Homo sapiens: one gene and its partner. The protein of the gene in region 1 purifies or fractionates together with the protein of each later gene. This does not show direct contact. Each region holds a gene or a part of one and is shown in the gene's direction. Other genes may lie near its edges.

Region 1 (3,966 bases):
GAAGGAATTTAGTAAATATCTGTTGAATAAGTAAATGGATTGGCAATTACAGGGTTTAAAAAAAAAGGTCTAAGAAAATAATTTACTCATATAGATCCAGTCCTGATACAAATGATTTTTTTAGTCTTGCATGGTTACAAATAGATGTCTCTCTTCTAGAAAAACTGAGGCAACCCTTCCGAAATAACTAATTTTAAAAAGTCTCCCTTCCTTTGAACAGACAATTCCAAAGCTCTTCCACAAGGCACAACCAATACAACCCAGGTCATGGCCCTGCAATCCCTCCCTAGTCCTCATGATGTAAGCAATATTACATTAATGTTTACAATAATGTAATTATTAGCAAGAATAATGTAAACATTAATATAGATTACTGTAAATTAATAGTGTAATTAATTACTGTAAATTAACATAAGCATTATTAGATGCAGGAAGACAAGTGAATTTGGGGGCAGTGGCATCTATGAGACATAAATCCTCATCTGCCACAGAAGGAAGTCAACACATACTATCCATAACTGAAAATGCAATAAACAGCAGAAAACACTACTTACTTAAAAATACAGAAACAAGCATTAAATGAAACAGCTTGAAATGTTGAAGGTGGTTACTCTGGGAACCAACACTCCCGGACTGGGAGGACTAGACCAGGGTATGTTTAACTTTGACTTTTTCATTTCAGGCTCGATGCTGCCATTTCTCTGAGCTCGTGGAAAATTTAATCTAAATCTTAATTAGGAGCCTTCTAAGATGGAGAACACATTCATTGCAGAGAGGTCAGGCTCAAATACACGTCTATCACAACATCTAAAACTTAACTCGGAAAAAACCTCCACGATTTTAAATACAAAGCACTGCACATGCACGCACTCAACACCTCTCCTTCTTTCCCCATGGTCAACACACCCACAACCCCTGCACATTTACCAATCTACACAACTGAGCACTGGAGCGAATGAGGTGAGTGAGGGCCCAGAAAGTTGAAGCAGGAACGATCCGAGCCTTCAGTTAATCCTAACGTCACCTCTAACGTTTGGGGTAAGAACGTTTCAGGAAACCAAGGGGGAACCAACGCTCAGCACAGCAGAGAAAGACACCAAGCTACGGGACCCGCCGCGCCTCCCGCGCCGGGGTGGAGCTGACCCCGCCGAGCCCCGCCCCAGCCTGCGTCTGCCAATGATCCAGGAGCCGCTCCTTTCCACTCGGGAAACCTTCAGAGGAGTCTCAGAAAGGACACGGCTGGCTGCTTTTCTCAGCGCCGAAGCCGCGCCATGCTCGTCCTCAGAAGCGCCCTGACTCGGGCGCTGGCCTCACGGACGCTGGCGCCTCAGGTACCGGCCACGGGGGTACCCAAGCCTTCACCCGACGGGAGGGGAGGGGCGGGGCGGGGAGTGTTCCGGGTACGTGCGAGCAATGCGCATGCGCTCTCCGCCACGCGCGCCCAGACCTGGGGCCCCGGTGAGGTTCTAGCGTGAGCCCCGGAACCCCAAGACAGGGGTACCCGGAACGCGCGTGAGGAGGAGGCCGCTGCTAGGGGAATACCCCCAGCCGGGGTCGTCTCGCGGGCAGTGGTGGTCAGAAGGCTTTTCTAGCCTGGATGCCACACCCACCGGGACACTCCCATGGCGCCGGCTGTTTCGTTTTTGCTGCCCAGCTATGTCGCGGCTGCGGCCCAGCGAGCGCTCCCATGTTGTCACCTGGCGCTGTGGAGCCGCGGGTGGAGTCGTAGCTTTCCAAGCCACCGCCCTCTCTAGACATCAGGTTGAAGGAGGGAATTGTCAACCAGCCGCTTGCCACGGAACCGGCCTCCCCCTTTTAAATGAAGCACACAACTTCCGAGCATTTCGCGGAGACCCTTGAAGAGGAGGCCCAGGGTCCCGGTGGGGCTGGACCCTGCCCGCCACCCGCGCTTCGTGTGGTCGCTCCCCCAACCAGGCGGGACCGGAGCCTCCTATCAAACCGGACGATGACAGACAGACTCTTTTAACCTTAGATGAGAAATGGACAAAATGGAGCTTGTGATTCTGCCCTAACTTTCGGGAGTGGCCTATTCTGTGGCTTCAACCTAGAAATTTCTTTTCCTTTTGATGTTTAGGACTTTACTCCTTTCTGAAGGGGCAGGATGGGAAGGGGATTAACCTGTCCTAGAGACAGACTGAGGAGCACTAAAGAAGAGCAGCTCATGTCCATTCACCCCGGGTTAACAATGCAGTTTTTACCCTAATGATTCTCCAGTGGGGCAGGGCCAGGAATGACGTCCTTATGGCATGATTCCAAACTTTAAGTTTTTAGAAATGTCCATCAGTTGTTCTCTTTTAAGTGAAGTGGAGGTCGTTGCTGGTGGGAATGATCCCTAACTTGGAGATAAGGGAGGATGGACGACTCATGATTTCTGCCCTAGCAGCTAAAAGTCATCCCTGCAACAAAATTCTTAACTCCCATCCGGCTCCCCCACCATACCCGGCTCCCCTGCAGTCTTCCTTCTCTGGCACCACCTGTCCACATCTCTCTCCCTCTCTCACTGTAGGTTCCCTACTGTATATTAATACTGCCCAAAATTGTAAAAATGTGTACCTTTGATCAACTATTTTATCCTCCAAATACAAATTCCTCGAATCAACCTGAAATCCATTTGTCACAAATGCCCCATTGGCCTATCTCCTGATATATTTTATTATAATAATTTTGAAATTATGGATACTAGGCACTTGCTTCTTGACCAACATTGTTACTAGAGTTTGGTTTAAAAGCACAAAAAGAGTGTCCACAAAAGGCAGGGGCAGCTGCAGCTGTTTTTGTTGGTAGGCTTAGTCATTTGAGCAATAAGAATATAAGTCACACACGAATAGAATTAACTCTAGATAATTATCATTAAGCCTTATCATACACAGTTACATAATTTTGTATTTTGTAAACAAAAATATGTCGGAGCAAAAGCCTACTGCTTTCAGACAGACATACTGGCTAGTCAGTATAAGCCCTAATTTGTCCATAGCTTTGTAGGTATCAAAACTGTCTTCACAGATTATTCTGGTGTAATCAACTTAAGGAAATGGCACATGCTATTCAAACTTAAGTAAGATGGATTTATAAGAATATCACGAATGCCTGTGTGTATACCATGAGTGCATATATATATGTGTGTGTGCGTATGTGTGTGTGTATGTGTATACATATATACACATAGATACCTACATAGAGGATAATCTTAGGCGAGGTATTTCTTACAGAAAGTTCAACCAGAACACAAATTAGAAATTTACAGTGCGTGTATGACTATTACAAAAGGAATTAATGGTTCTTAAGTGATATTTTCATCAATGTGGTATAAGTGGATTCATTAAATGTTGTTCACATTGCATCTGTAATTAGAAACTAATAAGAAAATTTTGACTCTGAATTTTCTTTTCTCAGCATTCATGTTCTACCATTATATTACAATGCAATTGGATAGGTCAGAGCTTTTTATTGCATTAGTTACATTCCAGTCCTAATTTTGGTCAGTGGTTTACTTCATTGAATTAGGAAATACTTTGACCTGAACTGTAATTTCCATTTTTTTCAAGAACCTAAAAGAGTTTTCTTCTAGTAAACATTTTTTTCATTATGCCTGCCAAAAGTTACGTGCGTAGTTAATAAAGTTCTTTGATGTGCATAACTGTAACACGTATGCTCTTGACTAAAGATGCAATATTGGCTAATAGGAAAACTTTTGTAAATTTGTTAGAATCCTAATTGTAGTTCTTGGATAAAGAAGTATCATTAAGATCTCAGCGCCTTCTTATGAGCAATTTCTGAAAAAGTGGCTAAAGGTGACAGTGAACCCCCACTAGGAAACAGTAACTACACACTCAGCATATTTAAGAGTAGTTGTCTTTATTGACACCTCTATGTAAACAAATGTATATGTGAAGCAGGAGAATAGGGTCTTGAGGCAGGGAACCTAAGGACTTCCTAGAACTAAAT
Region 2 (3,533 bases), on another chromosome or scaffold:
TGAGCGGTTGAGTGAGTTTCTTAATCCTGAGTTCTAGTTTGATTGCACTGTGGTCTGAGAGACAGTTTGTTATAATTTCTGTTCTTTTACATTTGCTGAGGAGTGCTTTACTTCCAACTATGTGGTCAATTTTGGAATAAATGCGATGTGGTGCTGAGAAGAATGTAAATTCTGTTGATTTGGGGTGGAGAGTTCTGTAGATGTCTATTAGGTCCGCTTGATGCCGAGCTGAGTTCAATTCCTGGATATCCTTGTTAACTTCTGTCTCGTTGATCTGTGTAATGTTGACAGTGGAGTGTTAAAGTCTCCCATTATTATTGTGTGGGTGTCTAAGTCTCTTTGTAAGTCTCTGAGGACTTGCTTTATGAATCTGGGTGCTCCTGTATTGGGTGCATATATATTTAGGATAGTTAGCTCTTCTTGTTGAATTGATCCCTTTACCATTATGTAATGGCCTTCTTTGTCTCTTTTGATCTTTGTTGGTTTAATGTCTGTTTTATCAGAGACTAGGATTGCAACCTCTGCCTTTTTTTGTTTTCCATTTGCTTGGTAGATCTTCCTCCATCCTTTTATTTTGAGCCTATGTGTGTCTCTGCATGTGAGATGGGTCTCCTGAATACAGCAACACTGATGGATCTTGACTCTTTATCCAGTTTGCCAGACTGTGTCTTTTAATTGGAGCATTTAGCCCATTTACATTTAAGGTTAATATTATGTGTGAATTTGATCATGTCATTGTGATGTTAGCTGGTTATTTTGCTCATTAGTTGATGCAGTTTCTTCCTAGCATCGATGGTCTTTACGTTTTGGCATGTTTTTGCAGTGGCTGGTACCGGTTGTATCTTTCCACGTTTAGTGCTTCCTTCAGAAGCTCTTTTAGGTCAGGCCTGGTGGTGACAAAATCTCTCAGGATTTGCTTGTCTGTAAAGCATTTTATTTCTCCTCCACTTATGAAGCTTAGTTTGGCTGGATAGGAAATTCTGGGTTGAGAATTCTTTTCTTTAAGAATGTTGAATATTGGCCCCCACTCTCTTCTGGCTTGTAGAGTTTCTGCCTAGAGATCCGCTGTTAGTCTGATGGGCTTCCCTTTCTGGGGAACCTGACCTTTCTCTCTAGCTGCCCTTAACATTTTTTCCTTCATTTCAACTTTAGTGAATCTGACAATTATGTATCTTGGAGTTGCTCTTCTTGAGGAGTATCTTTGTGGCATTCTCTGTATTTCCTGAATTTGAATGGTGGCCTGCCTGCTAGGTTGGGGAAGTTCTCCTGGATAATATCCTGCAGTGTTTTCCAACTTGGTTCCATTCTCCCTGTCACTTTCAGGTACACCAATCAGACATAGATTTGGTCTTTTCATATAGTCCCATATTTCTTGGAGGCTTTGTTCATTTCTTTTTCCTCTTTTTTCTCTAAACTTCTCATCTTGCTTCATTTCATTCATTTCATCTTCCATCACTGATACCCTTTCTTCCAGTTGATCGAGTCGGTTACTGAAGCTTGTGCATTCGTCACGTAGTTCTCGTGCCATGGTTGTCAGCTCCATCAGGTCATTTAAGGACTTCTCTACACTGGTTATTCTAGTTAGCCATTCATCTAATCTTTTTTAAAGGTTTTTAGCTTCTTTGCAATGGGTTCGAACTTCCTTCTTCAGCTTAGAGAAGTTTGATCGTCTGAAGCCTTCTTCTCTCAACTCATCAAAGTCATCGCAAAGCTTTGTTCTGTTGCTGGCGAGGAGCTGCGTTCCTTTGGAGGGGGAGAGGTGCTCTGATTTTTAGAATTTTCAGCTTCTCTGCTCTGTTTTTTCCCCATCTTTATGGTTTTATCTACCTTTGGTCTTTGATGATGTTGACAGACAGATGGGGTTTTGGTGTGGAAGTCCTTTCTGTTTGTTAATTTTCCTTCTGACAGTCAGGACCCTCAGCTGCAGGTCTGCTGGAGTTTGCTGGAGGTCCACTCCAGACCCTGTTTGCCTGGGTATCAGCAGCGGAGGCTGCAGAACAGCGAATATTGCTGAACAGCAAATATTGCTGCCTGATCGTTCCTCTAGAAGCTTCGTCTCAGGGGTACCCGGCCGTGTGAGGTGTCAGTCTGCCCCTACTTGGGCTACTCGGGGGTCAGGGACCCACTTGAGGAGGCAGTCTGTCCATTCTCAGATCTCAAACTCCGTGCTGGGAGAACCACTGCTCTCTTCAAAGCTCAGTTGAAAGTGCAGAAATCACCCATCTTCCGCATCGCTCACGCTGGGAGCCGTGGACTGGAGCTGTTCCTATTCGGCCATCTTGGAACCGCCAGTTCATTCTTATCATAACTATCATGTGGGTTAATTTAGAAGTCTAGATAGGCCAGCTGCAGATCAAATGAAATTACATATGAAAGTGCTTTGTGCAGTATAAAGCACTATGAGATTATAGAGTGTATTGGATAATTGTATGCAGTTGCATCCATTAGACTGGCTTTTTCAGATTTCATTTGTAGAGTATCTGTGTGTGTGTGTGTGTGTGTGTGTATTTTTAAGGGATGAATATTTTGAATTATCAAAACAATAATAAAGGTCACTGCAGTGTGTTTATAATAAAGTCCTTACTGAGTTCTTATTAATGTTTTGTCTGACATTTCTTTATTAGGAACTTAAGAGATTTGAGAACTTCATAAAATCTCGTCCTCCTTTTGATGTTGTCATTGATGGTCTCAATGTTGCCAAAATGTTTCCTAAAGTTCGTGAATCTCAACTTGTAAGTATAAGTTTTACTTTGTTATTCCACATCTCTAGAAATATTTATTATACCCATTTATGACCTTCTTGGGGCTCTTAGCTCCTCAGTTTTTCTTCCTCTAAAACTAAGGTCTTCAGGGTGCCACAGTGACCAACTGCATGCTCCCCTAAGATTTACTATTTTCATCACTAATAAGTCGCTCTTCAAGGCTGGGAGAAAACAATTAAAAGTGAGGAATTAAAAGAAAGATTGCAATACAGGGCCAGATTTTCCCGTTTCGTGTAACCTTTAGCTAACCTTCTCCTGGGTCTCTGCTTTCTCTTTGGGGTCGCTCTGTCATTTCCCTTTGGGTCATATCCTTATATTTGAAAATTATCAATATACAATATCAAGAGATATTAATCACTCATTACTCACATTTGTTTTTTCCAAACATAGTATGTTCATAAATTAACCTAAGCAGTTTTTTTTTCTATATGGTAGCCATTTGTTAATTTATAAATGCCCTACTAGTTTCTAATAAGACTATCATTTTTCATAGCTGCAATTAACAGTTACTTTAATCTCTATTTTGTAGATTAAAAAATTGAGGCTAATTTTGTATAGTAAATCTATAGAAAACAGTCATAACATCAAAATTAGATTGTAGAGAGCTCCTGGGTTTCAGACTTGTGGCTCTTATCATTGGCAATCTATAGCCATTCATCTGTAATTAAACTATTTCTTAAAAATTGCTGCCGCTGGCTGGGCACAGTGGCTCATGCCTGTAATCCCCAGCACTTTGGGAGGCCAAGGTGGGTGGATCATCAGAGGTCAGGT

Evidence for each region. Proteins that work in one complex are often made in the same cells at the same time.
Region 2: the proteins of NIPSNAP3A (region 1) and PRORP purify together in Homo sapiens (affinity purification with mass spectrometry; one large-scale study listed by BioGRID and IntAct). This does not show direct contact.

What each region holds. Positions count from the first base shown.
Region 1 is NC_000009.12:104,746,522-104,750,487, forward strand, and holds the start of NIPSNAP3A (protein NipSnap homolog 3A), read left to right. Parts: upstream 1-1,161; 5' UTR 1,162-1,271; coding exon 1,272-1,331; intron 1,332-3,966.
Region 2 is NC_000014.9:35,178,046-35,181,578, forward strand, and holds part of PRORP (mitochondrial ribonuclease P catalytic subunit isoform 1 precursor), read left to right. Parts: intron 1-2,624; coding exon 2,625-2,732; intron 2,733-3,533.